2 separate regions of the Homo sapiens genome follow, and region 2 is linked to region 1. The links come from fine-mapping of genetic effects on gene expression. A gene starts in region 1. The other region holds a variant in brackets. All regions are shown on one strand. Distances are between the middles of the regions.

Region 1 (2,920 bases):
GGATGTGTACTGCAGGGATCGATAGGGGAAGAGCAACTGGGGAGGGCTAGGCACTGGATGAGAGTGGCACTGTTGGAAGTCTGTACAGGGGAGGAGCCATGGTTGGACCTGTGGGGAAAGCCCATCTTGTGGCGACACACTGGTAAGGGCTACTCAACTCACTGTTGAATGCTGGCACAATAATTGGAAATATTGCACTGAAGAATTGGGCGCGGCTATATTTATGTAAAATTCAACACGGATGAGAAATGATTGAATGTTTGAGTGTGTTTCCAATACAACCCAATACTTGGCGTTGGTGCTGGTGGTGGGTGCTTCGTAGCGCGGAAACCCTCTGACGCACTGGATTCATTTTGCAGAGCTAACAAGTTATCAGCTACATCCATGCCGACTCCAAATGCCACAGCTGTCATGCCACTGAAACGCTATTCCTACATTCATGCCCACATTTATATCCTATATGCAACTCAAAGGGTCCAATGTGGAGTCCCACATCTAACCTTTCACTGCTCACAACGACAGCTCTAGGGCTATAAGCCCAAAGGCACACTAGATAGCAATCTGGCATCGTCCCCAGGACACTTCTTCCTCAGTAGACTGCCCAGGGACAGATAGGTAGATAAGGTTTGGATGACATCAAGCGAGCTGAACACAAGGAAAAAAAGCTTCCTTGGGAGACAAGAATGCTGGCATCTCTACGACAGGGGCACTGTTAGCATTACGGACCTAGAAAGTGAGATGTCACACATAGTCCCAACTACCTCCGACCCAGGTCCTCTCACCTCACCCCCAGCTCTTAGAGCTAGTCGGCTGTGGCGCATGCGCACTGAGCCACACCCGCTCCCCACGGAGCCCTGCGCCTCTCTGCTCGGCTCTGGCAGCAGCTCGGGATTACTCAGCAACGCCCCCCTGCACTGTCACCTGCCCCCGACTCCGACCTCGGGAGCGGCTCAGTCCCTTTTCTCAAGCTACGAGTGGTCCTGGGGATCAACTAGACTTTCCTTTCTCCCTCTTCTCACAGGCCCCCCACCTCCCGGCCTTCCGGGTCCTCCAGCCCCTAGCCCCTGTTCCTGCCCACGCACAGGCACCTTACCCAACACAATGGGAAGGAAACAGGAGAGGGCCGCGGGTGCCAGGCAGGTCAGCTCTGCGTGCCGGGAATCCGGCTCCTTAGAGTCACCGTCACTGCTCCTGCTGCCTCCTCGTCCTCAATGGGGCAGCAAGTGCGGCTTGGACCTCGGTGGCCTGACAGCTGCCGCTCGCGCCCGCCGCTGCCGCCGCGCAGCGTCTCGAGCCCGCGCCCGCGCCCGCCAGGGGAGGGGGCGGGGCCCGCGCCGCCTCCTCGTGCCCCTTTCTCGGCGGTGGGGACCCGGTGTAGCCGCCTCCCGCCCTCCATGTGGCAAGCGCTCCCTGGCTCGCCCACTCTTCTTTCATGCTCATCGTCCAACCCTGGTCTCCCTTGTCCTCCTTCTCCTCCCCTAGCCGATTAGTAGGCACAGCGGCAATAGACCGTCAAATATTGCTCTTCCACTTAGCTCCTCTGCAGCCTGGGCCTAAGCCCTCAAGCAGGGCTAGCCACTGCCCCACTTCCTGCAATTATCCTCTGATCTACCTCATTTATCCTAGCTCAAAATCCTTTAATTTTGCCAAGAGGGTAGTACATACACCCTCTTGTTTCAAATAACTCAGGAAAACACATGATCACAACACATTGCTAGGCCCTCTAACTGGCTACAGCTTATGAAATTTTCAGGCAATTAAAAAAAATGTCCACATCTGTAGCGCAGGCATAGAGGACACACTGCCCTTTACTCTTACCAGATACAGTTCTAGAGGGCCACACAGGGGGCATTACTTGAATTTCCCGGAATTGCTGCTGGGGCAGAATTTGATGTTTTAATTGTGCCTAGCCGACCAGCTAGTCTCTTTTTGTTGTTTTCTGTAGCCCTCTGGTACTTCCAACTAGTTTGTGATTTTCCCCCTGGAATTGAAGAAGGACAAAGCTCCTGAGGTCATTTAGCCTGCACTCCACCTCTCTGTCAGGCAGCTCCATCTCTGAAGCTTCCCCATTGCCCGAAACCCTGTGACCTTGTGGCACAGGCCCTCACTCATCTCATGACCCCGTCCAGGCCCTCACACATACCCGCTACTTCCATCTAGGCCACTCTTCCTCTGTCTCTTGACAAGGCAATCGTGCAATCAATCTCCGCAGGCCCCAGCTTAAATGTCACTTCTCAGGATAACCTTTCTCGATAATCTCAGAATAGAGATGGTGCCCCAGTTTATACTCTTGTAGCCTCCTGTAACTTGCTGTATTTTTCCTTCATAACACTTACCCATTTTTGGTGGTACATTTAAGTGTATGATTATTTGGTTGACAGCTGTCTTCCCTACTAAACTATAGTGGGGAAGGACTATGAGGTCAAGGACAACGTTTGTGTTCACCACCGTATGCACAGAGCCTAGGGCAATGCTTGCTGCATAGGACATGCTCAGAAAATATTTGCTGAATATGAATGAATGCTGTATCACTAATAGTTGTTATATTTAAATAAAATAAATTGATGTAACTGAATCTCATGTGCTCCTATTTAAACCAACCCCGTTCCCCACACATACACTCTAAAACACTCTTCTGATGAAGACGAGATTCACACAATCCTCTAAATCAAATTTTCCGCATACATTTTAGTCTATTAAAAAACTATTGAGCATGGGCCCCAACATATGTATAAGGATTTATAGATTATATACATGTACTACTGTACATGTATACATTACACATTACTTTAAACATACATTTTAATGAGTAAACATTAAAATACTCCACAGAAATTTTAAAAGAATGAGAAAAATAAATATATTGATGTTCCAATGTTTTCTTTTTGCACCTCAATAAATAGTTTTGTGAAATGCTTTA
Region 2 (2,920 bases), 53 kb after region 1:
GTGTTACTCCAGTGAACACGTGAATGATAAGAAAGCAAAACAGACTTACTGCCCATATGGAAAAAGTTTGAGTTGTCTCCATAGAAATTCAAACAAGCTACAACATTCCCTTAAGCCAAAGCCTAACCCAGAGCAGGGCCCTAATTCTCTTCAATTCTGCAGAGGTTGAGAGAGATAAGGAAGCTGCAGAAGAAAAGTTGGAAGCCAGCAGAGGCTGGTTCATGAGGTTCAAGGAAAGAAGCTATCTTCATAACATAAAAGTGCAAGGTGAAGTGGCAAGTGCTGATGTAAAAGTTGCAAAAAGTTATCTAGAAAATCTAGCTAAGATAATCGATGAAAGTGGCTACACAAAACAACAAATTTTCAATGCAGACAAAACAGCCTTATATTGGAATAAGACGCCATCTAGGACTTTCACAGATAGAGAGAAGTCAATGCCTGGCTTCAATGACTTAAAGGACAGGCTGACTTTCTTGTTAGAGGCTAATGCAGCTGGTGATTTTAATTCGAAGCCAATTCTTATTGACCATTCCGAAAATCCTTGGGCCCTTAAGAATTATGCCAAATCTATGCTGCCTGTGCTCTAGAAATGAAACAACAAAGCCTGGATGATAACACATTTGTTTACAGCATAATTTACTGAATATTTTAAGCCCACTACTGAGACCTACTGCTCAGAAAAAAAGATTCCTTTCAAAATATTATGGCTCATTGACAATGTACCTAGTCACCCAAGAGCCCTGATGAAGATATACAAGGAGGTTAATGTTGTTTTCATGCCTGCTAACACAGCATTCATTCTGTAGCCCATAGATCACGGTGTAACTTTGACTTTCAAGTCTTACTATTTAAGAAATACATTTCATAAGGCTATAGCTGCTGTAGATATTGATTCCTCTCATGGATCTGAGCAAAGAAAATTGAAAACCTCTGGAAAGGATTCACCATTCTAGATGCCATTAAGAACTTTCATGGTTTATGGGAGGAGGTCAAAATATCAACATTTACAGGAGTTTGGAAGAAGTTGATTCGAACTCTCATGGATAACTTTGAGGGGTTCAAGACTTCAGTGGAGAAAGTCACTGCAGATGTGGTGGAAATAGCAAGAGAACTAGAATTAGAAGTGTAGCCTGAAGATGTGGCAGAATTGCTGCAATCTCTTGATAAATCTTGAATGGATGAGGAGTTGTTTCTTTTTTAAAAATTATTATTATACATTAAGTTCTAGGGTACATCTGCACAACATGCAGGTTTGTTACATAGGCATACATGTGC[C/T]ATGTTGGTTTGCTGCACCCATCAACTCATCATTTACATTAGGTATTTCTCCTAATGCTATCCCTCCCCCAGCTCCCCATCACCTGACTGGCCCCAGTGTGTGATGATCCCTTCCCTGTGTCCATGTGTTATCATTGTGCAACTCCCACCTATGAGTGAGAACATGCGGTGTTTGGTTTTCTGTCCTTGTGATAGTTTGCTGAGAATGAGAGTTTCCAACTTCGTCCATTAACCTGCAAAGGACATGAACTCATCCATTTTTATGGCTGCATAGTATTCAATGGTGTATATGTGCCACATTTTCTTAATCCAATCTATCACTGATGGACATTTGGGTTGGTTCCAAGTCTTTGCTATTGTGAATAGTGCCACAATAAACATATGTGTGCATGTGTCTTTATCATAGAATGATTTACAATCCTTTGGGTATATGCCCAGTAATGGGATTGCTGGGTTAAATGGTATTTCTAGTTCTAGATCCTTGCCACACTGTCTTCCACAATGGTTGAACTAATTTTCACTCCCACCAACAGTGTAAAAGCATTCCTATTTCTCCACATCCTCTCCAGCATCTGTTGCTTCCTGACTTTTTAATGATCTCCATTCTAACTGGCATGAGATGGTAACTCATTGTTTTTGATTTGCATTTCTCTGATGACCAGTGATGATGAGCATTTTTTCATATGTCTGTTGGCTGCATAAATGTCTTCTTTTGAGAAGTGTCTGTTCATATCCTTTGCCCACTTTTTGATGGGGTTGTTTTTTCTTGTAAATTTGTTTAAGGTCTTTGTAGATTCTGGATATTAGCCCTTTGTCAGGTGGGTAGATTGCAAAAATTTTCTCCCATTCTGTAGGTTGCCTGTTCACTCCGATGATAGTTTATTTTGCTGTGCAGAAGCTCTTTAGTTTAATTAGATCCCATTTGTCAATTTTGGCTTTTGTTGCCATTGCCTTTGGTGTTTTAGTCATGAAGTCTTTGCCCATGCCTATGTCCTGAATGGTATTGCCTAGGTTTTCTTCTAGGGTTTTTATGGTGTTAGGTCTTACATTTAAATCTTTAATCCGTCTTGAGTTAAATTTTGTATACAGTGTAATGAAGGGATCCAGTTTCAGCTTTCTACATATGGCTAGCCAGTTTTCCGAGCACCATTTATTAAATAGGGAATCTTTTCCCCATTTCTTGTTTTTGTCACATTTGTGAAAGATCAGATAGTTGTAGATATGTGGCATTATTTCTGAGGGCTCTGTTTGGTTCCTTTGGTTTATATATCTGTTTTGGTACCAGTACCATGCTGTTTTGGTTACTGTAACCTTGCAGTATAGTTTGAAGTCAGGTAGCGTGATGCCTCCAGCTTTGTTCTTTTTGCTTAGGAGTGTCTTGGCTATGCGGGCTCCTTTTTGGTTCCATATGAACTTTAAAGTAGTTTTTTCCAATTCTGTGAAGAAAGTCACTGGTAGCTTGATGGGGATAGCATTGAATCTATAAATTACTTTGGGCAGTAAGGCTATTTTCACAATATTGGTTCTTCCTATCCATGAGCATGGGGGAGTGGTTTCTTATGGATGAGCAAAGTAGCTTCTTGAGATGGCATCTACTCTTGGTGAAGGTGCTGTGAATAGTGTTGAAATGACAACAAAGGATTTA

Which allele goes with the higher level. Alleles are on the strand shown, and positions count from the first base shown. SD is a standard deviation of normalised expression in the study named.
With allele T in place of C in region 2, the expression in lymphoblastoid cells of the gene that starts at base 1,291 in region 1 is lower (moderate effect, 0.42 SD a copy in GTEx).

What was found. PIP is the estimated chance that this variant, and not a neighbour inherited with it, causes the effect.
Region 2: its variant is fine-mapped to the expression of RAB9B in lymphoblastoid cells (GTEx, PIP above 0.99).

The regions. Positions count from the first base shown.
Region 1 is chrX:103,830,967-103,833,886 of GRCh38, forward strand. It overlaps RAB9B (RAB9B, member RAS oncogene family), which reads right to left and starts at 1,291. Exons shown (of 3, transcript NM_016370.4): 1 at 1,094-1,291.
Region 2 is chrX:103,883,729-103,886,648 of GRCh38, forward strand. All of the region lies in intron 4 of TMSB15B-AS1 (TMSB15B antisense RNA 1), which reads right to left. Among named protein-coding and RNA genes, the nearest start is that of TMSB15B-AS1, 34 kb to the right of the region's middle. The variant C/T (reference allele first, on the strand shown) is at 1,276.